3 linked regions of the Homo sapiens genome follow. The protein of the gene in region 2 interacts with the protein of the main gene of each other region in a pairwise test. Each region holds a gene or a part of one and is shown on either strand. Other genes may lie near its edges.

Region 1 (7,028 bases), on a different chromosome or scaffold from region 2:
TCCATAACTGGGTGTGTAGTATGAGTAGAATGAATTCAGTGCTAGCCTCTTGCTGGAGAGGGACAAGTGCAGGTTTAGAATTACAGCTTATGTTAGAAGGTTCTCTTCTCATGATACCTTCATGTTAGAAGAAAGAGGACAGAGGCAGAGCTGATGGAATCTCATAAAATAACAGCTAATGCCGTGTGTCAGGCACTATGCTTAACAAGTATCTGTTTAACATGTGTAAATGCTCTTTAGCTCTTGCTTTTCTATAATATAAAACAGTCCTGGAGTCCTGTTCTTCCCCTTCCTTTCTCTCGTGTCCTTTGACTGTCTTTTGCAGCCTCTGGCCTTTCTCATTATCTACTACAGCTTGCTACCTGACTCATCAAAGGCACATGGGTGTTGCAAGAGAGGATGGTATCCTGTGTTTATACCATTAAACTTGCTATTATAACAGGAGCTATAAAGTGAAAAAATAGAGACAAGAAATAAAGCAGAGATTTGTCATCCATGAGCTTGGGGCTATTGATAATTATGAAGAGAGGAGATATTAAGTATTCTGAACAGTAACTTGATATAGTTGAGAATGCTGGACTTGAGTTCAAAAGACCTAGGTCTAGGTCTTGGATCTGTCAGCATTAGCTGTATGGTCAAGTCAACCCTTTTTGAGCTTCAGTTTTTTCATCTGACAGGTGGGAAAAACATCTCTCTTTCCTACCAAAAATAAGTTGTGGATATCAAATGAGACAGTGTGCTTAAAACTTCCTTGTGAATGATAAAATTTTATGTAAACATAAGCTGTTTGATGGATTAGAAATGGATATGAAGAAGAAAAATATGGTTTAAAATTGTTAGTAAAATTTCATTAAAATTTGGACACGTAAACTTAACATAGTTGGCTTTCTCCTTATAGGGCCCTATGTTAATTTTTTTTCTAACTCACTAGGTTGCTGACCCTGAGTAATCATGTCTGTCTCTTCATTTTATAATGCTCTAACCTTCAGCTTCTAGGAGCCTGTAAAGATGGTTTTTGCTGTCACAAAGCCAGGTCCTAAAAGGCAGATTTGAATCTCACTTGAAAAAATGCAGTTTCACACATTAAAGGCAAGGAGAATTTTTGGCTATTGGTATAAAACAAAGATCACTGCCCAAAGTGAAAGAAATATTAAAGAAAAGCTTCCATGGCAGTGACTTCCTGTGGAAAACTTGATCCGACCTTCAACTGCTGGATAAATTACTTTCATTTTGGAGATATATGTAGAAACCACGTTGATATCTTGGTCACCTAGAAAAACATATACATTATTTTAACTACAGAAAAGGTAATTATCAATCAACAGTAAGGTAGTCCTTTGTAATTATAAAAGGGAAGCAATTTCATAAGCAGGGGTAAAGTGTCACAGAAGACAAGAACGCTAGTGATCATAAGTACAAAGAATTTGATTGCTTTTTCATGCTCCAGATGTAAAATGTGTCTGTTGTTCAATATTGGGTAATTGGGGGAAGTAGAGTTGCCTCAGCTCTGTGATGACTCTAGAAAGAGGTCATTGACATCATAGCCTTTGAACCACTCCAGAACAAGGGCATTAGGGAACTGGGTCAAGAGCAATTAGTTGAGAGATAAAACTGGCTTCCTTTTGTTTGCCTGCCCAATAATTATTTTCATGTAATTGATGATGGGACTTGGGGGATTTCCTTTACCAAAGAGAGGAGAGGATAAATGCTAATTGCCTATAGCTACAACAAACCCATGTTTGTTGGGAACCCATGTTCTGTTGGGAACCCAACAGAATTTTATTTTAAAAATATCACTCCAGTACTTAAGAACCCTTCTCTCTTCAGTGGTTTTCACCTCTGGGTGTACACTAGAATCACTGAAAAAGAGTTTAGCCCCAATCCAGTTAACTTAGAATCTCTTAAGAGCTGCGGCCGAGCCATTGGTATTTAATTTAAAATGCTCCTGAAGTGATTCTAATGTATAACCAGTGTTGAGAACGCTTAGGTCCAGGGCTTCCTTAGCCTTCTGCATGAGCTCCTCTCTCTAACATCCTTCAGTCTAGGCTTGAGTGGTGGACAGCTGATGGCTATCAGCCTCTTTGTCTCATGGGGCTTTTACGCCTGCCCTTCCATCTTCTGTCACGGAAGGGACAGAAGAAGCCAGCACCTTTCCTCCCAGGAAGGGCTGCCTCCTTTGGTCTGGTCCTGCCCTCCACGCTCCTTGGAATAAGTAGCTAAAATGACAGGTCCAGCATGATAAGACTGAGGAAGATCCTGGTGGAACTACCCAGAGATGCCAAGAAGCTGCTTGTGTGTCTTGTAAGCATGCTGGTCTCTGCCCTAGGAAGAGGAAGGGGAAGTGTGTCCTATGTCAGTGGTCTGTATGCACATAATGTGACTCTCAACAGAATTTCTAAAAGTGAGGCTGGCATATAATGTCCCTCAATGCTGCCAGAAGTACCAACTGACATCAAGTATGGTTATTCCTATGATTTGTACCACCAACCCACTGTGCTGAAAGGGCGGCGCTCACCCCATCCACTTCTACCTGACTGATTCACACAGAAACTTCTTCAAGAAAGAAAATTTAAATGATTTAATGTGATGGTTTTCCATATCCTAAAATTCCAGAGGTGTGATATTTCTGTTAATGCAAAACTCACTTATATTTCACAATTTAAATAGCTGCTTAGATGTAGTTAAAAGAATTTTAAAACATTTTTGATTTACAAATGTTTTGTCTCTGGGGTTGGATGAAGGCATGTGTGTGCTCGGGGATTGACAGGGTACATATTCCTCTCTGCTGTGCTGTGCTGCTGCTTTCCAACAAGCAAAGCAGGAGGGAGTCAGCAATACAGGGAGTCACTTTGCCCTCCTGGCACCACTAGTAGCTCCCCTTCTTGGCCCAATTTTGTTGTTCTTTAGAGAAAGGAAGAGACAGTCATGCTTACCAGAGTCATGTCTTAATAATTCATCTTTTATCATCTGGAACCCATCTCCACCATTGGCCAGGAAGTTTGGGAGGATCACCTTATATACCTCGTCCATTTTGAGAGGGTCATAACTGGGCACTCGACACTTGGTGCAAAGAACATCTAATTTGACTACTCTGTCTCCAGGTTTTCGGGAAAGATCATACACCACATGGATTCCTAGAAAAGAAATGAATCTGTTTTCACCAGATCCAAAGGGAGATTTCTGTTTCCTAAGGAATTTTGGCCAAACTCTACAATTGGGGCATGGGGCTGTGGTTTTTCCTTTGGTTTAAACCTGAGTGAAATTTTGTCAAGAGAATTGTGACATTGCAGCCACCCTTTATCCTTGAGTCCTTACAGGACATATGAGAACCACTGGAAGGAAAACCAGCTCTGGACCAGAATAGGCAAAGGGTGACTCTACATGGACAAAACCACATCTTTTTCTGTTTTTCCCTTAAAATGCTGAATTGGTCTACTAAATTGATTCAATGGCCTTAGAAAGTGAGAAACAGATCAGAGGCAGAGAGCATTTTACAATTTTGAAGACCATTAAATGGTAATCATTTGGGATTTGGTGACTTCCACAAGGCATAGAGCTATGCAGTGCTTTGCTAGAGCATCAGAAAACTGCTTTTCCCTCAACTCCCTTCTGGGAAAATGGAGGATGTTTGGGTTGCCCCATAGGCATTAGGACAGGGCCCCACTGCCTTCTGTAGCCCTTCAGTCTCAACAGCAATGTGTTCTGCAGAGGAAAACTCAGGAAAGCAATTCTATCTGTCAAGCGGGACCACAACCTAAGGTTAAAAAAATGAGGCCAGATTATGATTTCCAGGTAAAATAAGATTGCTTTTAAAGGATTAATTCACTGGACTGTGGAATTATTAACAAAAGTGTTTCAGAAGCCCTTGGCAATTTAGGAAGCATTTATTTCCATTCAACTTTCACTGCAGTCCATGAGATAAACAGGAAAGGTTTTCTCCCTGTGCCCAGAGGGGTTGAGAACTTGCCCCAGGTCACAGTGGGACTAGAACCAGGTGTTCAGGTATGTCTGTGCAGTAGGCTGCTCCTTCCAGGAATCATCCTGGTTAATACAGATTGGACAGCATTCCTTTAAATCTTGGCATGGTTCCAGGCAACGATGAGTAGAACAGAGGAGAGGATTTAAAAAAAAAATAATTGAATGCTTAAATAAGATTTTATTAGAAACTAGACCTCAAAGCAGGTGACCTGCTTAGAGGGCCCATCTGATGTCCAAATCAGACTTGGCAAATACTGCTTATTGCCAGGGCTTTGGGGCTTTGGGGCTTTGACCCCAACCTAATCTTAGTGGCTCTGAGAGTCCACAGCCATTAAAGGGTAAGGTATTGGTGTTGGGTCGGGAAAAATCCAAACCAGTTTGACCACAGGAATTTTGGTGAAGGGGAAGCTGAGCCAACCAGCAGGAAATGCCATGTCACTTTGGATGGGCCAGCCCTACAGGATGGGTGACTTACCGCCCACCTGCAGGAACTCTCCAGTGGACTGGCCGTAGCGGTGCACGCTATGCTCAAAGGCCTTCTTCAGGGTGGAACCTTTTAACTGGACTAGGTCAAATGTGCCTCCAAAGGGCAATACAGCAGCCAGGTTCTCCCAGGTAATTGTGCCTGAGGGTAGTCACAGATGAGGCAAGAAGGAAAATAGCTTGAGAAAATGCTTACACCATGACCAGTTTCCCTCAGCGCTGGGGGAAGAAATGAGGGGGACATGGGAAGCTTATAGAGCATCATTAGCTATGTCTAAGTGGTTCCTGACACTGAGGAAGGGAATGAGTTTAGGAGGCCTCTGGCCCTGCACTCCACCACTGGGCAAGATGGCGGGAGCTCACAAATGGCTGTGCCTCAGAAGTTCACCATGCTCAGTCTTAGATCTGCTAGCTTGGGGCTGGATCTCCAGTAGTTTGTTTTGCATTGTTCCGTTCCTCCAGACAAACAATGTGCCCCTGCAACCTGTCCCTGTTGTCTGACAATGGGATGCGTTTGGGGCCTTATACTGATACTGATTGGTTTTCACAGTAAATCAGGGAGGGCTACAAGAGTGTCTTGAGTATTTGTGTAGTTGATTTGTTTTGCCATATGATATAATCTTGGATATCTGTAAATATACTAAGGTAACATTTTAATCCAGTGGTATGTCTTTTTCAGGACAGAAGATTGGTGATTTTGTCTCTTTTCAGATGCCAAGGTGGTGACTGTTGTTATTTTGCATAAATCAGAAACAACTAGTATAGCTTTGTAAGTCAGAAATTCAGACCAAGTTTGAGTTCCACTAACCTTACCTGCAGCTTCTGTGTGTGAATACATATAAGAACACACAAGCTTGTGTGTGTCCTTCAGGCTAGGTTTTAGACTTTAATAATGGCTAACCCTAATTTAAAGGACTGACATTCTGGTACATGGCTGGCAGCAGAGATGAACTGAGGCTGCACATGGGTGTGTTCAGGGCAAGAACCATAACAGAAAAGGAGATCAGAGAGAGAACATGACACACTGAGGAGCTGGGCCTGGGAGCATACCATTGTTGCGTTCATCAATGGGCGACCGGATACCACCTCCATTTAAAATGCACATGGATACGTGGTTCCAGAACATTTCATCCGTGTGTCTCAGGTTGTTGTTAATCTGCAACAGTAGCACAGATTTACACTAGTTACTCTGGCTCTTCTTCCTTAGGATCAGCTCCAGGAATCTGGTTAGCTCTAGTGAGGAAATAAAGCTGCTTTTCACCTGCTGCTGTGTTCCCAGGGATCTCTCAACTATAATTAGAACTAATTTTATGCTCCCAGAAGTAAAAATATACTGTTACCAGTCCATGTCAAACTCTTATTTCCCCCTCCTAAAACTCCCATACTGTCAGGCCAGGTGGCCTTAGCAAAATGGTCTCTCGGTTGTAGCCCTGGTGTCGGGACTGGGCCTCCCATGCAAGGTGGCCTGCAGAGTCACTCCTGCACAGGCTTCTCCAGGGCAGGCCATGCCCTCTGCCTGATTCTGAGGGCTTGGCCCTAGAGCCTGCTCAACACCAGACCTCATGCCAAAGAGAACCTGGCCTCCACGTCTATGTCTGCAGCTGATTCCCAAGTTGGCAATTTTGGAAAGACAGAGACAGCCTTTTGAAGCTGGGGAGAATCACATCCATTCTTACTTTTATTTTACAAAATATATGTTTAGTTATAAGAAATAAAATGAATATATTCTCATTTAGGAGACAAAAAGCCGAAAAAAAAAAAAAAAAAAGGCCAGGCATAGTGGCTCACACCTGTAAATCCCAGCACTTTGGGAGGCTGTGGCAGGTGGATCACCTAAGGTCAGGAGTTCGAGACCAGTCTAGCCAACATGGTGAAACCCCGTCTCTACTAAAGATACAAAAATTAGCTGGGTGTGGTAGTGGACACCTCTAATCCCAGCTACTTGGGAGGCTGAAGCAGGAGAATCGCTTGAACCCAAGGGACGGAGGTTGCAGTGAGCTGAGATCATGCCACTGCACTCCAGCCTGGGCGACAGAGCAAGACTCAGTCTCAATAAATAAATAAATTAATTAATTAAATAAATAAATAAATAAAAAGCAAAAGCTCTCCTTTGTCCTAGCCTCTTTAACAGAGTGGATAAGCACTGCCAACAGCCTGGGTTGTTTCCCTCCAGACTTCTCTTAACATTTATATACCAGCTTCTCCTTAACTACTTCTCTGGCATTGACTGCATGATGCTGAGGAGACATCATGAGTCTGGTCTTGGCATGAGCATGATTGTTGTCATTTACACGGCAAACATTTATCGAGTGCAGTTGTATCCTGGGCACTGGGCAATGCATGCCAAGCACTGACAGAAATGACTTCCCTGGGTGCAGGCTGTGAGCCCATGGAAGTAGTAGTCCGACATAGGAGACCTTGGCTCAGTAAGGCCCCCAGAGAGCTACCATGGCCATTCCGCCTGGTGACAAGTAGACGGGCTTGTTCTTCATACCTGGTCTTGCTCAGCCATAGGACTTGTTATTACCATTAAAACTGTGTGTTGTCTTTCTGTGCCTGTGAAAGAG
Region 2 (7,028 bases):
CTGGGACCACAGGCCACACGCCACCATGCCCAGCTAATTGTATTTTTTGTACAGATGAGGTTTTGCCTTATTGCCCAGGCTGGTCTCGAACTCCTGGGCTCAAGCGATCCTCCTGCCTCAGCCTCCCAAAGTGCTGGGATTACAGGCATGAGCCACTGTGTCCGGCCAGGGTGAGTACTTTTATTTTTTTCAAGACAAAGTCTCACTATGTCACCCAGGCTGGAGTGCAGTGGCATGATCTCGGCTCACTGCAACCTCCGCCTCCTGGGTTCAAGTGATTCTCCTGCCTCAGCCTCCCAAGTAGCTGGGATTACAGGCATGTGCCACTATGCCTGGCTAATTTTTGTATTTTTAGTAGATTCGGGGTTTCTCCCTGTTGACCAGGCTGGTCTCAAACTCTTGACCTCAGGCCATCCGCCTGCCGCGGCCTCCCAAAGTGCTAGGATTACAGGCGTGAGCCACGGTGCCCAGCCTCGGTGTGAGTACTTTGAACCAGCAGTTCTACTCCCGGGTATATACTTAACAGAAATGAGTATATATGTCCACTAAAAGACATGTAGAATTTGTGTATCAGCTTTAATAATAGCCTCAAACAGGAAGTAATTAAATATTCATCAGCAGTAAAATGGATAAATAAATGGTATTATATTCATACAATGGAATACTGTATGTCAGTCAGAAAGACAATTACTACAACAATATGGAAGAATCTCACAAGGCATTGTAGACTGAAAGAAACCAAACACAAAAGAGTATATACCAAACGATCCATTTACATGAAGTTCAAAAACAGGCATAATTAATCTACAGTGTTAGAAATCAGGATAGTGCTACCTCTGGGGCATGGATATTGATTAGGAAGGATCATTTTAGAGGGCTCAGGTGTGCTGGAAATGTACCATGTCTTGATATGAGCAACAGTTATCCTGGTATGTACATTTTTTAAGATTTTGAGCTGTATACTTAAGGTTTTTATACTTCATTGGATGTATGTTATACTTAAATTTTTTCTAATTAAGAAAAAATATAAATATTATTGAAATAAGTAGACTGTCGGTATAAAAAGAATTGAGTCATCTTACGTTTGGGTAACATTTCATGGTTCCCTGGGCACTTTCACATAGCATGTTAAGAGATACATCATTTGGGTGTATTTCAGGGTAAAGATTCTAATTTATATCATTTGAGCCATAAATGTTATAAATTAATACCAAAATCAGCAACTTTTTATTTTTCTTCAAGTTACTATGTTGGAAATCTCAATATTGCATTACTAATTTCTGTCTTTTAGGCTAAGACATCAAGCACACAAAGAATTTTATGCCTACAAACAGGTGAGAAATTTAATTCAGATTGGCTTTGATTTTTTTTTTCCCCCCAAAAAACTGAGAACTCTGATTTCCACTCATACGTTAAACTGGGACTGAATTTACTTGTGTTCATTTTAGCATCTCACTGCCAATTTGCAGTATAATATATCAACTTCATTTTCTTAAGTATTCTTCTCTTCTTTTTTTTTTTTTTGAGACGGAGTTTCGCTCTTGTTGCCCAGGCTGGAGTGCAATGGCGTGATCTCGGCTCACAGCAACCTCCGCCTTCCAGGTTCAAGCTATTCTCCTGCCTCAGCCTCCCAAGTAGCTGGGATTACAGGCATGCGCCACCACGCCTGGCTAATTTTGTATTTTTAGTAGAGACGGGGTTTCTCCATGTTGGTCAGGCTGGTCTCGAACTCTGGACCTCAGGTGATCCGCCCGCCTCGGCCTCCCAAAGTGCTGGGATTACAGGCGTGAGCCACTGTGCCCAGCTTTTCTCTTCTTTTGTAAGCATTACTTGAAGCTGTAGAAAGTTCAGATGATATAATTTAACAGGAAACTTGAGCCAACAGATTGCTAAAGAGAAATGCTATAGCTTGTAATTCTTAAAGTTACTGTCGACTTAATGGAGTTCTGAGATACCATTAAGTGAAATTTTTCCTTCCTTCTTTATTAGAAGACATAGCAGTTCCTCGGAGGTGAGCGACCAGCTGTGTTACAGTGATCTCATCTACTCCCTTTTGTACTTTAAATGTTAGCTCATATTATCCACTAGAAGTCTGCAAACTTGGATCATAGCTGTCAATACCTAGTCCTTCACTGATTTTGTCTTTAAGTTAATACACTTATCTTTTCTCAAAGGCCAAGTAAAATTATTTTTTTCTTCCAAACAGGGGGCCTAGATTTTCCTTTGGCTCTAAGCATGAAATTCTTAATTTTTGTTACCCTTAGCTTTCTTCTTGGGTACAGGGGAGCTTCAGCTTATTTGAGTCTTTAACCTTGCTGACGCTGATGTTATGGAACTGTAACACTTCAGAACTGCGTATCTTGTTTTTGTTTGTTTTTGAGACGGAGTCTCGCTCTGTCGCCAGGCTGGAGTGCAATGGCAAGATCTCAGCTCAATGCAACCTCCGCCTCCCGGGTTCAAGTGATCTCCTGCCTCAGCCTCCCAAGTAGCTGGGACGACAGCCATCTATCTGCCACAACGCCCAGCTAATTTTTGTATTTTTAGTAGAGACAGGATTTCACCATGTTGGCCAGGATGGTCTTGATCTCTTGACCTCGTGATCCACCCACCTCGGCCTCCCAAAGTGCCAGGATTACAGGTGTGAGCCACCGCGCCCAGCCAGGACTGCTTATCTTTCTGTTCATCTTTCGTCCATGTATGTTTGAAATCTGAGCTCACTGGCACATTCCCTAGATGGACATACTGATGTCCTTAGGTAACCCCACACTCTTACAGGTCTCATGTGGGATCCAAAATCAGAGTTGAGTATTTTAGTTTTCTAAATGAATGAATCTTTTTGTCTCAGTCCTATCATAATCTTTTTTTTTTTTTTTTTTTGACGGGGTCTCTGTCACCCAGACTGGAGTGCAGTGGCATGATCACAGCTCACTGCAGCCTTGACCTCCCTGGGCTCAGGTGATCCTCCCACCTTAGCTGAGTGTGGTGGCATGCATAGCTGGGGCTACAGGCGCACACCACCACCCCCGGCTAATTTTTGTACTTTTTGTAGAGATGGGGTCTCCCCATGTTGCCCAGACTCCTATCATAATCTGTTTTGTTTTGTTTTGTTTTGTTTTGAGACAGGGTCTCGCTTCTGTCACGCAGGCTGGAGTGCAGTGGTGCAATCTCAGCTCACTGCAACCTCTGCCTCCTGGGCTCAGGTGAGCCTCCCAAGTAGCAGGGATTACAGGCGTGCACCACCACACCTGGCTAATTTTTGTATTTTTTGTAGAGACAGGGTTTTGCCATGTTGCCTAGGCTGGTCTTAAACTCCTGGGATCAAGCAGTCCGCCCACCTCGGCCTCCCAAAGTGCTGGGATTGCAGGCATGAGCTACCGTGCCTGGCCACGTATTATAATCTTGACAGCTTACAAGATATTTGTATGTAGGCTAACTAGAAAGTAAAATTGGCCTTTGCAGTCATTTAAGTGAAATTGACTGATAAAACTAGACAAGTCACAAGACATACAGTAAATTTGATCTTTAAAATATACTGGATAGGAAATTTAGTATATCCCTGTGAGGCCTTATAGTAGCTTCTGGTGTGATTTCTGAAAACAGGATTTACCCTCAAATCCATTTTTAGTTCAGGAATGTAAGACACCAAAATTTAGAGATTTTCCCTCAAATTTTACTTGCCTATTTTCTTCACTTTAAGATGAAATATAACTCTAATAAGCTATATTTAGTCTCAGAGTTTTTTCTTAAATAGTAAACTTCCTTCTTATCACTTGGCATTCATTTTAACTACTGTCTGGTCACCACGGAGTCAAAACTTTCAAAATTAAGATTGACTTACTTTTTTTTTTTTTTTTTGAGACGGAGTTTCGCTCTTGTTGCCCAGGCTAGAGTGCAATGGCACGATCTCGGCTCACTGCAACTTCCGCCTCCTGGGTTCAAGTGAATCTCCTGCCTCAGCCTGCCGAGTAGCTGGGATTATAGGCAGGCGCCACCACATCCAGCTAATTTTTGTATTTTTAGTAGAGACAGGGTTTCACTATGTTGACCAGGCTGGTCTCAAACTCCTGACCTCAGGCGACCCACCCGCCTTGGCATCCCAAAGTGCTGGGATTACAGGTGTGAGCCACTATGCTCGGCCAAAATTCCTTTTTTAGGAGAATATTGCATCATTGCTCAAGTTAAAAAAATGTTGCTAAAATGATCTGTCTCAAACTGTAAAAGAAATTCCCTTCAATATTGAATATGAGGGAAATGAGCCATATATACAAAAGAAAAATATTTGAGAATATAATGAGAAATATTTAAAGTTACAGATTTAAATGGGCATAAGAACATACTTTTTTGTCTTACAGGTTATATTAAAAGAGAAAGTAAAAGAATTGAATTTACATGAGGTAAGTTGATGATAAGTAAATCCTCTTGAGCCATTTTCTAGTAGCAGTGGTATGCTGTGGTATGTTTAAACACTTTTATTCTCAGTAGTTGAAAAAAATAGGCTTATTTTGATTGGGGTAATAGAATATTTCAGGGTGAGGTCACATAAAAATCAATTGTGTGAAGGCTTTACGAGAGTAATATAACTCATACTTTTAATAGTGATGACACCATTATAAAATTTCATAGCAGTAGGGATGCTGCTTGCCGTCCATGCTGTATGAATAGGAAACAGATACGTTAGTTTTTCTACTCAAGGTGAGTATGTACTAATTTCCCCATTGAAAATGTTCCCAATATTTCTTTCTTACCAATGGTACAAAAAAGAGAGCAGTTATCTCATGGGGGTAGGGATTGAAGAAGGTAAGACATACGGAACAGGGGAAGAACACACAGGTAGCGATATGAATCCTTGGGATTGTTTAGCTCTTCGGTTGCATGGTTGGGACATAGGTGCTTTGTAACTTAAGTACAAACTTGGGTGTGTATATCCTGCTGTATACATTAAGATACATAGCCTATAAGAATTCTTTTTCATTCTATTTCTTGTGTTGCCTCTGACTACAAACTTTCAGAATTTTTATTTTTTATCACCCTTTCCTTCTCCCTTTCTGGGTTTTCTAATTGGTGTTTAAAGCAAGGACTTGAAAAGCTGTGTGTTGTAATAGCAGTGTCGCATATAGCCTAGCTGTGGTGAAGCTAAATTGCCAGTCTCTTCAAAGAAAGTTAATTTGTTAGGTTTTTTGAATCATAATAAAAATAATCATATTATTGTTAAATATTTTGAAATCATCTATTGGTCCTTTGCTCTTTCTGCATATTTTTCATCAAAGAATTGATATGTTTCTGTTTAATGGCATTTTAGACCTAGCCTTGGATTAAACTGAAGCATTAATTACTGTTTGATTTTTTTTTTTTTTTTTTTTTGAGACGGGGTCTTACTCTGTCATCCAGGCTGGAGTGCAATGGTGCAATCTCCGCTCACTACAAACTCCGCCTCCTGGGCTCAAGCGATTCTCCTGCTTCAGCCTGTCGAGTAGCTAGGATTATAGGCATGCGCCACCACACCCAGCTAATTTTTGTATTTTTAGTAGAGACGGGGTTTCACCATGTTGGCCAGGCTGGTCTTGAACTCCTGACCTCACGTAATCCACCCACCTCGGCCTCCCAAAGTGCTGGGATTACAAGCGTGAGCCACGGCAGCCGGCCACTGTTTGATTTTTTACTTTTCCTAGAAGTTAATTTTGACACATGGCCAAAATTAACATGAAATAATAAAAGTGGTCTGTTTCCCATTTGGAGTCTTTTTGATGACCGTAAATGAAAAGATTAAATTTTTACCAGATTAATCCAGAACAGAAGTCTTCCTTACTGGTGTGACCTGTTAGTTTAGAAACTTTGTCCTGAATAAATACATTGTGTGTTGCATCAGTATGTATCATAGTTAGTATCCAACTACACCCACCAATTCCTGTTTCGCTGGTCATTTGTATCTAGTCTTGGATTTTTTTCACCATAGTATCCCCAGCTTTGGTTATGGTGAGTTGCTTTCTTCATTGAAATTCTTTTGCACCTTTTTCAAAAATCAAATAGCCATATTTTTTGTGACTGTATTTCTGGATTCTCCATTATATTCTCTTGATTTGTGTGCCTGTTTCTTCATCAGTACCACACTGTCTTGATTATTAATAGCTTTATAGTAAATCTTAAAATCAGGCAGTGTGATTCTTCCAACCTCATTCTTTTCCAAAATTGTTTTAGCTAGTCTGGTTCCTTGACCCTTCCATGTAAATTGTAGCATCAGCTCATCTGTATCCACAAAAAAAAAAAAAAAATCCTGCTGGGATTTTGATTTATATTGCATTAACTCTATAAATGTGTTTGGAGAGAATTGACCTTTACCATGGTGAGTCTTCTGACCTGTGAATACATTATGTCTATTTATTTATTTGAAGCTCTGTTGTTAGTTGTATACACATTGAATATCTTCTTGGTGAACTGACCCTTTTGTCAAGGTCTCTCGCCGGGCTGGGTGGCTCACACCTATAATCCCAGCACTTTGGGAGGCCAAGGCAGGAGGATCACCTGTGGTCAGGAGTTCAAGACCAGCCTGGCCAACATGGTGAAACTCCATCTCTACCAAAAATACAAAAATGAGCCAGGCGCGGTGATGGACACCTGTAATCCCAGCTACTCGGAAGGCTAAGGTAGGAGAATCACTTGAACCTGGAGGCAGAGGTTGCAGTGAGCTGAGATCGTGCCATTGCACGCCAGCATGGGCAACAAGAATGAAACACTATCTCAAAAAAAAAAAAAAACTGTCTTCATCCCAGGTAAATTCCTTTGCTTTGAAATATTTGTCCAGGCCAGGCGCGGTGGCTCACGCCTGTAATCCCAGCACTTTGGGAGGCCGAGGCAGGCGGATCACAGGGTCAGGAGATCGAGACCATCCTGGCTAACATGGTGAAACCCCGTCTCTACTAAAAATACAAAAAAATTAGCCGGGCGTGGTGGTGGGTGCCTGTAGTCCCAGCTACTCAGGAGGCTGAGGCAGGAGAATGGCATGAACCTGGGAGGCGGAGCTTGCAGTGAGC
Region 3 (7,028 bases), on a different chromosome or scaffold from region 2:
AGTGCATTGCCTAACTTGGATTTTCCCCAATCTCACAGGTAAGAAAGGTATTTCCATTATTTTATTTTATTTTGCATTTGTCTTTTTATGCATATCCTTGTATGTTTAAAGACCATTTGCATTCTATTTTCTGTTAACTGTCTGTTCACATCCTTTTGCCTATTCTTCGGGTTCTTCTCATAGTTTAAAATTCTTCATATATAGGGCTACAATTAGCCCTCTGTGATAAATGCTGCAAATATTTTCAGCTATCCAAAAAAATCTTTTTTCTTCTCTGTCACCCAGGCTGGAGTGCAGTGGCTTACTGCATCCTCAAACTCCTGGGCTCACAGTCCTCCTACCTCAGCCTCCCAAGTAGGTGGAACCCAGGCCAGGTACTTAATTTTTTTTTTTTTTTTTTTTTGGTAGAGCCAGTCCTACTAGGTTGCCCAGGTTGGTTTTGAATTCCTGGTCTCAAGCAGTCCTTCTGCCTCAGCCTCCCAAAATGCTGGGATTACAGCCATGAGCCATTCCATCTGGCTGAAAATTCTTCTATAGACTTCTCTTTTTATTGCTTCTGAATTTTCAGTCCTAGGAAAGTTTTTCTCACTGTCAGATTATACAATAATTCATCTATGTTTTCTTCTAGTTAGAAAGAGGGTTTCATTTTAAAAATTGGGTCTTTGTTCTATTCAGATTTTATCCTGTGTATCCTGTGAGAAATCGATTCAATTTTATTTTTTTTTCCAAATGGTTAACCACACTTCTCTCAACACCATTTTTAAAGCCTTTTTCTCTGAATGAGATGCTTTATCATGTACTAAATTCCTAGACTTTCTCATATTGTAAACATTATGTTATAATATTTAATAGGGTTATCCCTCCTTCCACATTGTTCTTTTCTAGGCATCTTCTGGCTATTTTTGTTTATTCTTTCCAGTACTTCTTGTTTTATTGAAATCGCGTATGGCCCTTTAAGTATAAATATATATTACATATATGAATGAAGACATTTCAAAAGTGTTCTGCAAATCATATTCTAAAACCAACCTTAGGCAAGGCTTTTTTTTTTTTGGAAAATCAGAAGAAAAAAGAAGAAAACAGAAGTCATCTTAAGGGAATGCATGGACCCAGGTAAAGCCATGTATGGCGGCCACAACACCCAGAGTAGCCTTCCCTAAGAACAACAGCAGCATTTACTGAACATTTGCTGGATCCACAGTCCTGTAGTTAACTATTATACAGAGACTGGTCCATACAAAAGACTCAAGAAACTATACAGCTGTCTTGTTGTGACTATCACAGGAAAATTTATTCTGTAAAATAAAAGTATGCTGTGCATAACAAAGATCAAATGCTGTACTAGATTTTTAAGAAAACATTTAGCACCCACTATATTTTTTTAAATGTGAGGATTGTGAACTTCCCTTCCAGCTCAATCTTCACAAAATTACATATACTATACCTCAGGGTAAAATCTAACTTTAAAAAGAGTTACAACATCTTTCAAATAAAGCAAATTCAGTCTGTAGGAAAATAAATTATCACTTGATATTGGGGTATATCTTTCTTCAATCACTTGGCACATCTGCGGCCAGAAACTCCATTCACTAAGTAAACGAAGGAACTTCTTCCTTCCAAGGGCTGGGACCAAATTTCCTGTGCAAAAACCTTCCTGTATAAGTGAAACCTGTCATTCTCCCAGCAAAGGATAATTGAGATTAGAGAGTGTGTAAAACAAAAATACAAAAATATTACCCAAATTATTTGTACCACATACAGGTTTGAAACCTGGCCATCCAAAATACTAACTAAAAAGACTATTATTGTTCTTAAGGTAGAGAAATCAGACAACACATCTTGGCGCTCATGTTGCTTCCTGCACTAACCTAGTTAATCTGACAAGTGAGACAAATTGTTCATTGGGAAGATGTTTATATCATGCTTCAGTATAATTTGTCTATTCTTTTATAGGGGAGAAATGTTGAAAATAGAACATTCAGTCTTTCTGGCAGTTAATCAACAGTGACACAACCTTACATTTCCTAACAACTACAAATTCCCTAATTAACCATTTTAAAAATGCAATAACAAAACCATTAAACCACTATTTGCTCTAGTTCACTGTTTTTATTTACATAGCTACCTTTCTCCTAGACAAGCAACGTTAGCGAAAGATGCCTTCTTGATGACAATCCTATTCAATTTTTATTTATTTTTTTGGTGAAGGGTTTTCTCAGCAGCCAGTTACCACATGGAGCATTTCACAGTTTCAAAGAAGTTTTCCTCATTTTAAAACTGCAAGAAAATGCTACACTTGATGGTAGTTCCTAAAAAAATAGTTCAATCAACCTTCTAGAATTTTTGTAATATAACTTCAAGTATGTAATGATTTAATTAACACAATACTCTTAATAAACAACAGCAACAACAAACCCAAGTGCTAGCTCATTTCTGGTGCCATGAGACATAATAGCACCACTTGTTTTTCTATTTTAGTGGTTAAAATGTATGCAATTTTAGCACCCATCTACAAAAGTTAGATGTTAATAAAAATATGGTATTACTTGGCTTACTAGGAAGTAACAGTCTTAATATCCCCTTAAGAGAAGAAATCTGTTTCATTTGCTGCATCCTGGGTCATGGAAAAGAATAGTATGAAAGGGGGAAACAAAGAACAGCCTTTTAGGTAAGGCTTTTCAGTACCTGAATCACTGAAAGTATTGAAGTCATGTTCCTTGGAAGAGTAGAATTATACCACACATAGGAGGTTCCAAGGAGTTATGTTGTTATACACTGTATGTCAGGATAGACCACATTTAAAATGCTGAACATGGCTTAGCAGCCTTAAATATAAAAAACAGGTAAACTAGAAAAAGTAATGATAGTGATCAACTCCCGTCCTCTAACCAAAAATCTGCCTTGTCACTCCGTTTCAAAAACAAAGTGAAATATTCTAAACAACTGACAAATTTTTACATAAAAACACATTGAATTTAGATTAATATCAGTTATCAAGACACAATAAATACATGATGGGGAAGACAAAGAAAATAAAGTGCACCTTTACAGTGTAAGAGACTCAGAAATCACTTCCTAAATTGGTAATATAGATTGCAATATAAAAATAACTAGCAAAGTTAGATTAAAAAATTTTCAGCTGAAAAATTACAGTTTTTCAGTACATCAGAGGGACAAATAACCTTTTATTTAAAGGTATTATATTTAGAGACTTGTATATTTCAATTTTGTGTAGGAGAAAGGAAAGCCATTCTTCTAGAAGGCACTAACTGGTTTAAATGTGTGAGTGAATTCCTAAAGAAAACATGTGCAAAGTATAGTCAAGAAGGCTGCCTGGTTGTGTGTTGTATTCACTACTCTTCATCACAGACTATGAATTATTGCTGAACAACTATATCAGTCACCAGGTTTTCCCATCAGAGCTTCAGTGTGTTCAGTCCACAGTGTCGCAGATCTCCTTTACTTTCTGGTTGAATTCTTCTGGTTGATCTGCATATACATAATGTCCTGCCCCAAGAATAGCCTGGATAAGGAAAAGCATTCAGACAGTTAGTGAGTAAAAGCATTTAATAAAACAGAATGATATATAAGCAAAGACACTTAGTAATAAAAGTGAGAGCCACTGTATTTAAATAAAACACGTGATTAAAAAATAACAATAATCTATAGTAACTATTAAGTATATCCATTAAAAGGATCTGAGAATAGAAAAATCTACTGAATCTCAATAAAATTTTAATATGCAAAAAACACTAAATTGACCACTAATAAAAGTGCCAACAGAGAAACTGAAAAAAGTGAGAGTGTGCTGCCTTGTGAGGTGGGAATTACTTGAAGTGCTACTGGACCAATCCCTCTGTCCATCTCTCCTAATGCTGTGGCTCTAGGGACAGGAAAAGTCATTCAGAAAGGTAGTTCACGGTTTGGACATGAAGATGTGTGCAGGCCAAACCCTGCACCCATCACAGGTGGTATCACGTCCCCGACTGAGGCTGCAGGTATGGCTCAGATGACCTGCAACACGAGGATGACCTAAAACCTCTTTTAAGGGAGATAATAAAACGGACCTCACCTATACCTAAAAACCCAAATCAAGCCACACACTTACTATTGTCTTCACATATGAATGTGGTCGTAAGGACTGGATGCTGGTGCCAGAATTGCCATCTATGCAGGATCGGGCGCCAAAGATCACTGAAACTGGAATGTCAGGGTGCATTTTACCAATTCGCTGGAGCATTGGCCTTTTTGCCCATCCATAAGGAATAGTCATATTCTTGAAAGCTGTCTCACCACTTTAACGGCAAGGAGAAAATCACGATGTATGATTTTTGGGAATGAGTATGCATTGCACTGTCACTTCTATCAAAACACATTCATATTTAGCTTTTCCAGCACCTAAGAAAAACCTCAGCTTAAATAGAAAATAATTTATGAGACAGTGTAAGGAACAAATCTCACAGATCACTGTTAGATAAGCAAGGCTGTTGTATACTCCAGCTGATTTTTAAAAAAGTTTTCTTGTAAACCAAAATGTACAACCCTAATTTTCTATCATTAAATTATTTATTGTGGAGATAGTTAAAAATATGTTTTTTTGTCCTTATTTAAACTGATGTAGAAGGTAGCTTATCCCCAGGTTCATGGCACCAGCGTTTCACCTGCAATGCTAAAACCATTACCAAGTTAAGAAGAAACTCAGACAATATATTCTTGCAAGCTCTCAGGATAGGTCTATCTTGCTGTCACTTCTGCTATTCATTTTTTTTTTTTGTTTTTTTTGTTTTTTTTGAGATGGAGTCTAGCTCTGTTGCCTAGGCTGGAGTGCAGCTGCACGCACAGTCTCAGCTCACTGCAGCCTCTGCCTCCCGGGTTCAAGCAATTCTCCTGCCTCAGCCTCCTGAGTAGCTGGGATTACAGGCACGCACCACCATGCCCAGCTAATTTTTGTATTTTCAGTAGAGACGGGGTTTCACCATGTTGGTCAGGCTGGTCTCAAACTCCTGACCTTGTGATCTGCCCGCCTCGGCCTCCCAAAGTGCTGGGATTACAGGCGTGAGTACCACGCCTGGTCCCTTCTGCTATTCTTACAAAACCAGACATCATTCTAACTTGCCTTTTATGAAGAATTCAAGTCTCACTACAATCAAAGTAACAAACTAGGACTACACGAACACATGTAATCATGAAATAAGAGTACGTGAAGAGTAAAACTTACGCCATGCAGGAAAATGAATGATGTTCCCGGGGAAGACCCCTAAAAAAAACTGTTGGAAGTGTGTAGACCTAATCCACCAAACCTGACTGCCTAGCAATTCACAAAACCTCAATCTCTTGAAGACCTTGAACCTCTAGCCTCCCTCACTCTTGGCAGAGAACCTCTAACCTACTTTATTAAAAAGACTGAGGCTACAGCTACCTATAAATAGCTACCATGGCCTCAATCTTTTTAATAAAGTAGGTGTACATATTTTCTGCCAAAAGTGAGGGAGGAAATAAAAGAGAGGGAGGCTGTCTCTGCATCTCGCCTCTTAGCCTTTCATCCAAACCTCAGTCTTAGAAAGGATGAGATACCACTTCTCTGTCTTAAAGTGTGCTCCATAGTTCACCTATACAGAATCACCAGAGTATTTGTTAGAGATGCAGCCCAGAAATGCTAATATTAGTCTTAGAAACAAACCTCAGGAGTCACATTTCAACAAGCACCCCCAATAATTCCAGTACACAACATAGCATGAGAACTGCAGCTCTCATCTTTGCACTCTATTCTTGATGCTCTTCCTAGAAACTCTAGGGCCTTATCATTCGGCCTCCTCCTAGCCCCCCACTATCTTCAGGCTCTGTTTTCTCCACTGGTACTTTTCACCCAACATCCATAAGTCATATTTTTAAAACATACATTTGGCCCTCTTGCTCCCTCTGCTACTATGCCCCATTCTCTCTCTCTCCTTCTAATCACTGTCAAAATACATGCAGAATCCCTCACTTACTCCTCACCCTCTGCAGCTGCATTTCTAATGCTGACCTACAGATCTTTAGAGTTGTTCAGGAGTACAATCATCAAATGAACTTGAAAAATACACATAGCATCTCCCATTCACTTGGGAGATTCAATACCCTTCGGTATAGTAAAGGTTCTAAGAGGATTCATAGTATAGACAATCATTTACTTTTGTTTAATCCAGCACCCTTTTTTCTTTTTTTGAAACATTCATACTCAGTTTGGGAAATACTTCTTTATGTGAAATTCTTCAACTCTCAACTCAAACCATCTCTTGGAGATGCCCAAGACCAAGACTTTCTCAACATGTTCATGAGAACTTTGAGGGAAGAGTGAACATGTTACTTCTTAATCCCCCATCAGAACTCAGCACAATGTTTTATACAGTGGGTACTCTAAGAATAGATGAGTAAAATAAAATGTATTAGACACTTGTCCTTTTAAATTCAGTCATTTAACTACTGATACAAATCTTCTGGACCACTGATATATTTTAAACAAAGGCCGGGCACGGTGGCTCACACCTGTAATCCCAACATTTTGGGAGGCAGAGGCGGGCAGATGACCTGGGGTCAGAAGTTCAAGACCAGCCTGACCAACATGGAGAAACCCCGTCTCTACTAAAAATACAAAATAATTAGCCGGGCGTGGTGGCACATGCCTGTAATCCCAGCTACTCAGGAGGCTGAAGCAGGAGAATTGCTTGAACCCAGGACGCGGAGGTTGTGGTGAGCCAAGATCGCACCATTGCCCTCCAGCCTGGGTGACAAGAGCGAAACCCCGTATTGAATGAATAAATAAATAAATAAATAGTTTTAAAAAAAATAGTCTAAAACACACACAAACACACACACACACACACACACACACACACACACAGAGTGAATTGAGAATCCTAACCCTCACCTTGGAGTCTGCACATTACAGTGGTAGATGTATTCTGTCACAGTATCGTCTTCGAACATTGAAGAATACTTTCGTTTGAAATCAGGCCTTAAACGCTGCACTAGACTTAAACCTATTTAAC

Evidence for each region. Proteins that work in one complex are often made in the same cells at the same time.
Region 1: the proteins of RNF24 (region 2) and NT5E interact in binary tests that used the Homo sapiens proteins (3 or more experiments, as listed by UniProt).
Region 3: the proteins of RNF24 (region 2) and ABHD5 interact in binary tests that used the Homo sapiens proteins (3 or more experiments, as listed by UniProt).

Annotation. Positions count from the first base shown.
Region 1 is NC_000006.12:85,488,083-85,495,110, reverse strand, and holds part of NT5E (5'-nucleotidase isoform 1 preproprotein), read right to left. Parts: intron 5,618-7,028; coding exon 5,512-5,617; intron 4,604-5,511; coding exon 4,454-4,603; intron 3,135-4,453; coding exon 2,934-3,134; intron 1,271-2,933; coding exon 1,107-1,270; 3' UTR 1-1,106. UniProt on the Homo sapiens protein: Catalyzes the hydrolysis of nucleotide monophosphates, releasing inorganic phosphate and the corresponding nucleoside, with AMP being the preferred substrate. Shows a preference for ribonucleotide monophosphates over their equivalent deoxyribose forms.
Region 2 is NC_000020.11:3,942,543-3,949,570, reverse strand, and holds part of RNF24 (RING finger protein 24), read left to right. Parts: intron 1-1,291; coding exon 1,292-1,334; intron 1,335-4,352; coding exon 4,353-4,394; intron 4,395-7,028. UniProt on the Homo sapiens protein: May play a role in TRPCs intracellular trafficking.
Region 3 is NC_000003.12:43,714,938-43,721,965, reverse strand, and holds part of ABHD5 (1-acylglycerol-3-phosphate O-acyltransferase ABHD5), read right to left. Parts: intron 7,020-7,028; coding exon 6,908-7,019; intron 4,296-6,907; coding exon 4,109-4,295; intron 3,524-4,108; coding exon 3,434-3,523; 3' UTR 1-3,433. UniProt on the Homo sapiens protein: Coenzyme A-dependent lysophosphatidic acid acyltransferase that catalyzes the transfer of an acyl group on a lysophosphatidic acid.